Regions from separate parts of the Homo sapiens genome. Here region 2 is linked to region 1. Evidence: fine-mapped expression QTL. Tissue or cell type: whole blood. Region 1 holds a variant in brackets; the other region holds the start of a gene. All regions are shown on one strand. Distances are from middle to middle.

The links. PIP is the estimated chance that this variant, and not a neighbour inherited with it, causes the effect.
Region 2: CCT2 starts here. The variant in region 1 is fine-mapped to the expression of CCT2 in whole blood (INTERVAL, PIP above 0.99).

The regions. Positions count from the first base shown.
Region 1 is chr12:69,509,368-69,515,730 of GRCh38, reverse strand. The region is part of intron 1 of FRS2 (fibroblast growth factor receptor substrate 2); the gene reads right to left. SNORA113 (small nucleolar RNA, H/ACA box 113) reads right to left here and starts at 291; the gene lies at 138-291. The variant T/C (reference allele first, on the strand shown) is at 2,585.
Region 2 is chr12:69,582,857-69,588,537 of GRCh38, reverse strand. It overlaps CCT2 (chaperonin containing TCP1 subunit 2), which reads right to left and starts at 3,079. Exons shown (of 16, transcript NM_006431.3): 1 at 3,014-3,079; 2 at 2,194-2,268; 3 at 1,720-1,785; 4 at 922-1,033; 5 at 532-608; 6 at 276-388. The coding sequence starts at 3,016. It overlaps MIR3913-1 (microRNA 3913-1), which reads left to right and starts at 3,715; the gene lies at 3,715-3,816. MIR3913-2 (microRNA 3913-2) reads right to left here and starts at 3,815; the gene lies at 3,716-3,815. RefSeq lists an enhancer at 2,709-3,048.

The DNA of each region.
Region 1 (6,363 bases):
AATTGTTTTTCAACCCACCATTAGAGGGAACAAAAGATTAAAAATGTTGCTTTCAGGGTAATGTGTGTGCATACCCTCTCTTCCACATGTATTTGTCTTTGTTTCTCCCTCTCGAGGAGTGGGTGTGAGTATGTGTATGTGTGTGAGAGAGAGAGACAGCAAGAGAGCGCGAGGGATGTTTTTCCCTTCCTCCCTCAGTCTCGGTCACTCTATATCCCCTCTCCTTTTATGTCAGCCTGTCTCTCACACTCAGTAACTCATTTCTAAGCACTGATATTCAGAAACAAAGCATTTTATCAGGTTGTAGTCTGAGGCAAAGTGAATTATAAAAATAGTCACAAAGTGAGAAAAAGAATAAGAAATTATTTAATCATCAGCTGAAAATAGAAAAAATTAAAGCCAGAAACTTTCAGCTTTCCTTAAACTACCTAAACACATAAACATGCCATACACAAAATCTTAATAAACATAGTAGGTTCAATCTAACAGATTCATTTACAGAATTTTGAGCTAAATGCATCAGGACAGAAAAGACATTAAAAGTCAGTTTAATTAAGTAGTTAGCACTGGCTTTGGAGTCATAGCTCTGAATTTATATCCCAACACTGCTATCACTAACTGTACAATCTTGGGCAGGTTACCTGCTCTTGGTCTATCTTTTAATCTCTAAAATGAAACTAACAAGTTTGTTGTGAGGATGACACAGATAATTCTTGTATAACATTTAGCATGGTGGCACATATTGAGGGCTTCACATTTTATCTGAAACATCAGGTGCAGTGAACATCTATTATTCTTTTTGTCTGCTTGAACTTCTCCTGCCATATGATTTCAGAAGGTAAAACACTGGTTCTACAGCTTGGAGTTCTTGAGAACTCCACCCATCTTTTTTTTTTTTTGAGACACAGTCCCACTCTGTTGCCCAGGCTGGAGTGCAGTGGTGTGATTTAGCTCACTGCAACCTCCGCCTCCCAGGTTCAAATGATTCTCCTGCCTCAGCCTCCTAGGTAGCTGGGATTACAGGCACACACCAACACGCTTGGCTAAGTGTTGTATTTTTAGTAGAGATGGGGTTTCGCCATGTTGGCCAGGCTGGTCTAGAACTCCTGACCTCAGGTGATCCACCCACCTCAGCCTCCTAAAGTGCTGGGATTAAAGGCATGAGCCACTGCATCTGGCCATCCTCCCGTCTTATAATTGCAGAAGGTTAAACACTTTCCCACATGTCCCATACATCTAGGATACATGTTTTGCCAAACACACATGTGCATCCCAGAGTAGCGAATTAGTGAGCAGAAGCAGAGAGCAGAAGGAGCTCATTCTCACACTAATGGTGGAGCAGTTTCAGCAAGGTCAAGTCTGGGGCAGAGGTGGCAGCATTTAGAGTCATCCAGAGCCAGCAGTGTTGCTGGGACAGGTTGTGGCATCCATCCGTCTGTCTCTAGATGGTACTGGCATCCTCATGGGAATTATGCAATGTGATTTGGAGCATTGTTTCTGGTTGCTTAGCCCTGAATCTGGTTCTCCAACCCTCACAACAATTTGATAAGCCACTGAGCTCTACCCAATTTCCTTTTAAAACATATTTGATTTGGTTTTTACTAACCAAAAATTCTGATTGACATCATGCAGGGGCGAAATCTATTCTCACCTGCCTCACCCACACAGAAAAAAAAAAGCAATTTTCCATCTCTCCAAAGAAACTCAAAAAGTATTGTTTGCTTTTAACCAATGGATTTATCCTGGGAAGACTTCGAATTTTATTTTTATAAATTATAGATAATTATTTTCTTAATTTAGAAAGTGAGAAATATCTAGGCAGATTTAGATTTATTTCAAAGGAACACTGTCAAGGAGAAGTGATATCACAGGAAAACAACTCTATCCAAGGAGTAGCTTTCATTGAGGTAACAAATGATTCCACCATGCCTAAAACCAACCTATGTATTCCCAACAATTTTCTTCCCAGCAGGAGCTTTACACTTGAGGAGCCCCACCCCCAAGGGTCATTTTTAGGTCAAAAAATTTTTAATTATTATCAGAAAACCATATATATTCCTCTTTTGTTTAAAAAAATAACTCAGTAAAATATCTAAATAGCAAAACTATTCAATTCTCTGTTAAAATAGTGCATAGTAAGTCAGTGCCTCATTGTCACAGGCTAACGCACACTCCTCCTCCTCTGCCAGATTTCTCTGCAGGTCTATTTTACAGTTCAGTAATGCTTTTTCCAGTGTTCAGAATGTTACAGCTCAAATCTGTTAATTTTATTACTCATCAGTAAAAATGTTGATACAAGGTTTGTGGGGAGGCTGAAGCTTGGGGACTAGTTTCCCTATTCTCAGGAGCCAGTTACCATATGGGGTTGAAACTATGTTTTAATGAATAAAATATATATATATGAACAAAATCAAGCATAGTTTTTAAAAAGGTGATTGTTGACTGCCAACCTAAAAAAAAAGAGAGTTTAAAAAAGCAAATCTTTTCAGATTAAAATTTAGGAAAAAAGAAAGAAGAATTTGGAAAGGTATATTGTTGTTAATGTACATCCAATGTATTAAAAGGTCAAAAAAAAAAAACAAAC[T/C]CCAAACTTTGCCAGAGATTTGGGGGCGGGAGGAGAAGTCACAGAATTTCAAGGTTCATGCTCATGCATTAGAGCTACATTACACCTTACAAGTGGCTGAGGCCTTGAGAGTTGAGCAACTTACCCAAGGAACTTATCTTCTGATTCCTAGCTGAATGATGTCATTAAGACATCTTCCTTTTGCCCTTCAAAATAAAGTTAACTGAAATGAAGTTAACTGAATACCATATGGCATGATTCCTGAATTTAAAATAACAAGAAAATACTAAATCCAAAGCAAGTGATTTCAACTGTTTGTATTCTTTTTAACATAACGTTCTGATTTATGATAATTCATAAATACTCTAGACCCATCAGTACAGAAAAAGCCATCAAGGAAAGTGAAAACTTTTTATAGTGTCTATAACTTCATTTCTAGGTAATGCCCGGGATGTGTTATAAAGTAAAATCATTTTTGCATATGTGCCAAGGGCTATTTCTTAACCATCAATTATAATATACAAGTTGTTATTTACTGCATGCCCTCAGAACATATACCTAAACACCATGAATTTAAGTGTATGCAACTCAACAAAAAAAATTCTTTTCTGGTCACAATCCACTCACCTTATAAAGATACCACAATCCCTTAGAAAAAAGTTCTTCTGCATTTGATTCTTATACTAAATGTAGTGTGAGCTTTCTACTCAAGGGAATAAAAGGAAAAAGTTCATACAAGATCCAGGTCTTCTTTCTTAAATGAGGCTTGCACAAATAAGTCTTACAAACTAGCTATATTTGTGTTTTATGAGAAGCCTAGAAGAAGCAGAGCTAAAAAGGTCCTAAGGCTAGCTCTGAATTACTACCCTGTTATAAAGAGTAATTTATGCTATGAAATAACAGTAACAGTCAAAATATTCCCCTCCCCCGCCAAAAAGAGATGAGCTAACAGACTCCTATTAAAATAAGGTGCAAGATCAAAAAGTACATGAAACCCAAAAGAGAACAGGGAGGGAGGGTGTGTATAAAGAGATAAAAGGTTTACAGCAAGGAAGGCAAACCTAAGACACATGTACTGCTATTTCTCGTCCTTCAAAATTGGCAGACACAGGTAACAGGTGACAGCTCTGTGGAGTCTGGCAAAGGCTTCAGAAACCTCTGTTACAAAGCAATGGGAGCTGTCAGATTAAATATAACACTGTCATCCCTGGTTGAGACTGACTGAACAAAAGCTGCAGAGAAAACTCATTAAACAGATAAAGAGTATAGAGAAAAACAGGAACAATAAGAGCAGCCAATATTTACTGAGGTATTTTTTGTTTTTAGGTTACATACATTGTTCATTTAATCCTCAAAACAAACTTCATAACTACTAACACTGTGCCCATTTTATAGATGGAAGAAAAGAAACAAGATTTACAGAATTTTCAATAACCAACTAGCCAGTCGTATATATAGTAAGAAATGGGGGCCCTAACACGGATATGAGCAGTTTACCATTCCTTTGTAATGGATCATAGAACTCAACGACTGACCTAATCCTCTATTCATCTCCATGTAAATCCACCAGTTCAGAGTTTTTTTAAAACAAAATTTTAATTAAGTAATATCACGTTTCTAATTGAAACTGTGGGAAATATAATGAATATACTAAAACTGATATTTTTATTGCTTTTATAATTAACAGTTTGATGAACACTTTCTACACACACTTCTGTACATTTTTATTCCATTTATAAAACATTATCAATGGAATTCTGGGTCAAAGAGTGTGCACACATTCAGCCGGAACATTTGATTTTATTACTACTGAAATGATGAAGAGATGATGGTCCCTTTAGGAAAACAACTGTGTCTTATTCTCCCTTGTGTCCAAAACATCTAGTACATAAGCAAGTATTCATTGACTGCTTAATGAATGATGGAGGTTTCCCTTCCCTTAGCACACAGTCTCTGAGGGGAGAATTAAATCCTGCAGGTTCTCAAATGAGAAGACAAATGATGCCAAATATCAAATTTACTGATGGGCTGCATAAAACCCTCCTCAGGGAGAAAAAAAGCACAAGTACTGGCACTGCCATTCAAAGTATCTCTATATGTTTAAAAGAGTTGGATACCTTATAGTATATTTAAAGAATACAGTATTTTAGTAGGTATGTAACACTGAAAGATACTACTTCTCCCAGTTTATTATCTAAATGGCACACTGTCCACGAAGATAATTTCAGAACATGTTCAAAGAGCTTCAAAGGGCTAAATCTTTTAAATACTAACTAGATTTTTCATTTTACATTGATTTTTATTCACAGGTACTAATGTTATTATAGCAGGTATCCCATAAAGATGAAAAACAGATTCACTATAAAGACAATGTGCAGGGTATTGAGCTAGCACTTTAGATGTATTAATTTAATGTTCACCACATTCCATGCTAGCTATTATTGTCTCTATTTCACAGGCAAAGAAACAGAAGATAAAGAAACTTGCTTGTTTCTTTGAACCAAGACATTCTGGCCACACGCCTAATCACTACACATTATTGACTCCAAGTAACAAGCAAAAGCAAATACAGTTTCTGGCACAGCTTTCAGTGGACATTAGTGATAAAGGGTACAATGACAATACGCTTGCCAGAAAATAGGGTGTTCAATCAATTTGGATGGATTATTTATTTAGTAAATAATTATTTATTATCTATCATGGGCCAAGAACTGTATCAGAATATGTATTTTTCAAACCTTGAAAACAGTTTAGGGAAGAAAGAGGCAGATCTTGTAATACAGATATCTAGCGTACAGAGACAGATGTAACGGAGACAGAATAAAATAGAATTATTCACAAGTGTCAAGACACAGAAGGAGTAATTAACTCTACCGAGGGCACTCAGAGAAGTTGCACAGAAAGGAAACAGCTCAATTGTAACTTGAATAACAGACTTTTAATGTGTCTGGCTATAAGTTTCTCTCTCAAAATCATTCTCCACAGATGGGTCAGGTTATCACTATGAAAAGTGCTGCAGCAGAAGCACAGAATATGGCTTAGGACAGCTGGCACCACATGAGGTATGCTAGGGAGAGAAAGAGGGGGCTAGAGATTGCCACAGATCTGCAGAATCAAACCCCTACAAACACAATAGAAGCCAGTGACAAGTCCATTTATCACACTTAATTTTATAGCTAACATGGCTGTTAAAATTGCCTTTGTTTGGCATACCTGTAAATTCCCAATAAATTCTTAATAAAATAAACCTAAATTTAAAAACAATAACAAAGGAATGAGGGCTGGGAGGGGAAAGGTGGATGTAAAGCATGACTGACCCTTCCTGAGACCTCGCTTTAAAAAGTTATAGGAGTTTTTAGAAGTATAAAGCCCATAAGGATGAGGAGAATTGGGAAAGACACAACAGCAAATGAGAGTCATCAACATCATTTTGGAAGCTAGAAAAGGAAAAGAATAACCTATCAAGACCAAGAAAGTTGAAACCTAAACCTGACAGGGAGAAGCCATCAGGAAGCAAGCTGATAAAGACAGAAAGTAGAATAATGGTTGCCAAGAGCTAGGGAGGGGGAAATGGGGAGTTACTGCTTAATGGGTGCTGAGTCTCAGCTGGAGATGATGAAAAAGTTCTGGAGATGAATAGTGGTGATTATTGCACACTAATGTACTTAATACCATGGAACTGTACACTTTAAAATGGTTGTAGCCGTAAATTTTGTTATTATATTTTACCACAATTTAACAAAAAAAGCAGCAGCAAGTTGACTCATGCTGGAAAGATTTAGGTATTGTAGGGACAGTGA
Region 2 (5,681 bases), 73 kb before region 1:
TTTAACTAGGTTAAAAAGAGGCTAACAAATTCTCTATACAGTATTATACTATTTGCTTTATTTGTATATTTTGATGATATATACAAAAAGACTAAAAACCCAAACTTAACTTTAGTGGCTATCTCTGGAGGCTGATGTAGGTTTGACTGTTGGAGTGGGGTGAGGCAGCAAGATGATCTTTGTGTATGCTTTTCAGTGTCCTATAGATTTCTTGCATTAAGCATGTTATGAAAGAACACTAAATGTTTAGAACAGTAGTACTTTGCTATACAAACCCATGATCAACTGCAGAACTCAACAGCGCCTCTCTTGCAGCCTTCGTGGCTTCTCTCCAACCCGCTATGATGGTCTGTGGATGAATCTTTTTTGCAATTAAAGATTCTGCTTCCTATTAATAAAGTTATAAAACAAAAGTTATAAATAGAAAATTATTAAGCACTCCTCAATAGTAAAGACAGAGGAAGTAAGGACTAGATTACCTCTGATACTCAAAAACACAGTAGGAAAAAAGAGTTGCTTAGTTGCTCTTACCCTTAATAATTCTGCTGCTAAAACGGTAACAGAGGTAGTGCCATCACCAACTTCATCATCTTGAACCCTTGACATATCTAGAAAAAGAAATTAGTTATTAACTCAAAATTGCTTCTTTGCTTACTAAATTCTCCAAAAATATTCACTACCAATCTAAACTTACCAGGGTTCCTCATTCAACAAATTATTTGGAACTCTGAGGTCTGAAATGCAACAGTTTTACCACCAACATACGGGCACTCCTGAAGCTTGTATTTTAACAACGATAATTAACAACTAGTGGACATCAATTGACAGTACGATTGGTCAACACAGCCTATTTATAAAGTTATTTCAAAAATGTTAACAAACAGTATTATTAGGTTGGTGAAAAAGTATATTCAGACTTACCAACTAAAACTTTAGCTGCTGGATTGTCAACACCAATGTTTTTTAGAATAGTGGCACCATCATTGGTTACCATAAGAGAGGCATCTCGTCCACTGCTTAGAAGAATTTTGTCCTAAAGGGAACATAATTGGTTCAAGTTAAGACATAAGCACATCTTGAAGAATGCATGGATCAATCAGTATTCTCACACAGTGCTAGTGTATAAACACTCTGGATAGCTATTTTGTGGTATCCATTCATCAAATGTTTTCAATACATACACCACGTAACCAAACCATGTATCTACCCCTAGAAACACTAGAAGCACAGGTAGACACTAGTTTTTGTTTCAACACCGTAACTGCAAAAACAATGGAAAGAAACTATCAATACAGCCATAATTAAATTATAAAATAATTAAGGTACAGGATAATATTTGACAGTTAAAGGGGCAGTGTTATCTACTTACACTGAAAGGAATTTAAAAGAGCAAGCTACAAAAAAGTATTGATAAATAGTATCTGTTTTATAAAACAGTATGTTACATGAGTATAAAATACATAATGAAGTACACATACTTCTACATAAACAGAATATTAGAAGATGTACGTGCAAATGATAACAGTACTTGTCATTGGGGAGGGGCATGGGATTGGGGATGGTGATTCTGGGGACTCTGATTTTTACTAAGGAGAACATACTTGTCTTTTATAATTAAACGTTTTAAAGATTAAAAAGCATTTTAATACGCTTGTTATTATATTTCCACCAAGCGCTCTAAAACAATATTAAAATATAAAACTTTTCTATTTTTCTTACCATGCCTTTGGGTCCCAAGGTGCTCTTTACCAAGTCTCCAATGGCGATGGCACCAATAAAAGAAGTCTGGAGTAAAAACCAAGGAGATTATCAGAATCAACTTTACAGTCTTCAAGTACAGTTTTATCTTTATTTACTTTTTTTTTTTTTTGAGGCAGAGTGTCGCTCTGTCGCCCAGGCTGGAGTGCAATGGCGCGATCTCAGCTCACTGCAACCTCCGCCTCCTGGGTTCAAGCGATCCTCCTGCCTCAGCCTCCCGAGTAGCTGGGATTACAGGTGCCCATCACCACGCCCGGCTAATTTTTGTATTTCTAGTAGAAACGGGGTTTTACCATGTTGGCCAGGCTGGTCTCGAACTCCTGACCTCAGTTCATCCGCCTACCTCGGCCTCCCAAAGTACTGGGATTACAGGAGTAAGCCACCGCGCCTGGCCTCCAGTTTTATCTTTAAAACAATGCTTAGAACAAGGCTTACCAGACGAGCTGTCTCTGCTCTCTCTTCATCAGCTCCTGCCTTAAAGATGTTAACAGGTGCAAGGGAAAGGGACGCCTGAAAAGGAAAACCAAGAGGCATTCCGTTTAAGTACCAATACTCTAACACATACACTGAGGTGCCTTCCACTAGTCTTACAAGTGGACATCTAAGAGAAAACTCATTTACAACAATGTTTTCAATCAAATGAAGCTTCCATCATCGGAGAAAGCATTTAAGTGGGAGAGAGGGACTTGTAGGAGAGCGACATGGCTTTTCGGATTTACAAGGCCCCCGGGAGTATAAATTATACACCAGCGAGATTGACAGTTACGTACAGCGAGACTAAAGACGATCTTGAACTAAGAATGAGGCAGGGAGGGGTTGCAGGCCATCAAGGTGACGCCTGCCGGGCGGGCGAGGGAACGCGGCCTCCATCTTCCACCCTCGGAAGGCTGCGGCCCCTCCACCCTCTGATGGCTCAGACCCCGTCGCTCCAGGCTCCGCCCCTAGAAGGAGGGCGGAGCGGGTCCCACACTAGAAATTTCTTCGCTCCGGGTGAGGCGCGGACCTGGGCTGCCGGGACTATGCAAAGACCTAGGCACAAGGAGACGCTGGCTTTGCGGTCCACCCCTCCCCCTCGTGGTGAGCTCCACCGGCTGGCCTGGCGCAGGCCGCACGCCCCGCGCATGGCTCGCACCATGTGCGGAGGGCCGGGGAGACAGAAACGGAGCCTACGACCCTAGCAGGACAGAGGAAGCAGTGGGGTGGCAAGAGCACGGCGGAGCAGGGGTAGGGCAAGAGGCAGGGGAGTCAGGCTCACCATGGTTCCGAGGAGTTCCGCACACAAGTGAATCCCCTCACAGCTCGTGCTCGGGACCAGCGGACTGAAGGAAGCCGGAAGTGACGCCACACGCCCTACTTCGGGGGGCGGGGCCCCGGCCTGTCGTTACCGCCAGCAGGCGTCCCATTTTGATTGGAGCCCCACGGGCCGGAAACGCAGCCTTTCACACTGGAGGGGGCGTGGCCGCCGCTCCAGAACAAAGAGGCGGCTGCCGCGCGGGTTGCCATAGAAATGGAGTTCTTGCTCACACTTTTTATTTTCTTAAATTTAATCTTTAAACACTTCTATTAAAGTCACACATGTACACAGTTTAAAGTGTTATATACCAATAAGGAAAAACATAATTTATCTGCCTCACCACTTCCTGTCTCCAGGAAAACTGCTTTCAACTTTTTCAGTTTTTTGGAGGGGCTATTTACTATCATATTCCCAGATAATATTATTGCTATGTTAATTTTAAACATTATTTACTGAGTATTACAGAAGAAGACTTCCTTTTCTCTTACTGAATTTTCAGACGTTATTTCTAACTGGACGTTGACTGCCCAGGATAAGGTCTTGTGAACTGAGAGAGACATTTATAGTATTTTATCTTTGCCCTATTTACTCATTTTCAGGAATTTTTGCATTTCGGTCTTTTTTTTTTTTTTCCTCCAATAGTAGAGACGACTTATTAGTCTTTGTTTATAATAAACTGAAATATTTGGGACTGATCTTGATGTCTGCCAAAACCTTGGCAGACATCAAGATCAGTCCCAAATATTTCAGTTTATTATAGACAGTTTTCTACTTTCTCTAAGTTGACGGATGTCTAAAAATTTGTTCTCTAAAAAATTTTTCTGTCATCTACTGATACCCTCTTTTCTCCCTTTGACTAACTGATCGCTTAAGCTCCTCGGCAGGGCGCGGTGGCTCACCCCTGTAATCCCAGCACTTTGGGAGGCCGAGGTGGGCGGATCACCTGAGGTCAGGAGTTGGAGACCAGCCTGGCCAACATGGTGAAACCCTGTCTCTACTGAAAATACAAAAATTAGCCGGGCGTGGTGTGCATGCCCGTAATCCCAGCTACTCAGGAGGCTGAGGCAGGATAATTGCTTGAACCCGGGAGGCAGAGGTTTCAGTGAGCCGAGATCACGCCGCTGCACTCCAGCCTGGGCAACAGAGCGAGACTCTGTCTCAAAACAAAAACAAAACAAAACAAGCTCCTGGATTTTTCTTTTTCTGTTTTGTTTTTTTTAGAGATGGGGTCTTCTATGTTGCCCAGGCTGGCCTGGAACTCCTGGGCTCAAGCAATCTTCCTGCCTTGGTCTCCTGAGTAGCTGGGGTCTCCTGGATTTTTGACATTGCTAACATTAACAGGAATTTTCAATTTTTTAGTTGTTTCTACCCTTCAGATTTCCTCTAAGTGGGTTGATTTCCACCAGGGGTTGGCAAGCTGTGAGGAGTCAAACCCAGCCTGCCAGTTGTTTTTTGTATGGCCTGAGAGCTAAGAATAGTTTTTACATTTTTAAGTGGTTGAAAGAAATCAAAAATTTCCTGACACATGAAAATCCTGTGAAATTAATATTTCAGTGTCCATAAAGCTTCATTGGAATCCATGGGCATACCCATACATATTTACTCTGTCACAATACGATAGCAGAGTTATGTGGCAGAGTTGAGTAGTCATGACAGGTTGAATGGGCCCACAAAACCTAAAACATGTATTATCTAATTCTTTACAGAAAAAGTTTGCTGACCCTGGTTTACAGTATTCCTCAGGTCCAACATGAAAAGGGGAGTTCAGGCTGGACAAATTGTTATTTTAAATCTCCCAAGAGTTTTCTCTTCTTTGTAGGAAAATTTGGTCTTCTTTCAGGAAATGTACTTTCCTAGGCAGATCCCAAATCGCATTCTGGAATGAGAAGATTCACAATAAAAAACTAAGATGCCTGCACAATATTGAAAAAGGTTGTTTTTATTGTGGGCAAAATTACATACCTGGAGATATTTATTATGTCCTCTGGTAGGCAAGCCTGAGACTGTGTGTGATGGGGAAACCAATGACTGCTCCCTGCTGGGCTTTGAATGTAGCCAGAGGCATTTGGATGGGGAGAAGGAGGCAGGCCCTGCCACCTTGTGGAACTGAGGCTAGAGGCAGCCAGGAAGAGACTCTATGATGGGACCCTTGGAAATGTGTCCTTTCTCCATTGCATCTTTTGACCCTTCCTTCTTTCCTACTTCCCCCTCCTTTGATGACACCTCTACACCTAGAGGCTAAACACTCAGCTTCTAGACCCAGACTATATGAGTTTGAATTTCAACCATTTTACGTACTAGCTTTGTAGTCTTGGGTGGGTTTCACAGGCTCTTTAAATCAGTTCATTGAAGGCCATTCAGAGCGTGATCAATGTGCTGGTTTACCAAAAACTGTCTCTTTTAGCTGTTTATACTTTTTTGTTGTTGTTGTTGTTGTTGAAACAGAGTTTCACTCTGTCGCTCGGGCTGGAGTGCAGTGGTATGATCTCAACTCACTGCAACCTCCGCCTCCCGGGTTCAAGCAATTCTCCTGCCTCAGCCTCCCAAATAGCTGGGACTACAGGCATGCACCACCACAGCTGGCTAATTTTTGTATTTTTAGTAGAGACAGGGTTTAACCATGTTGGCC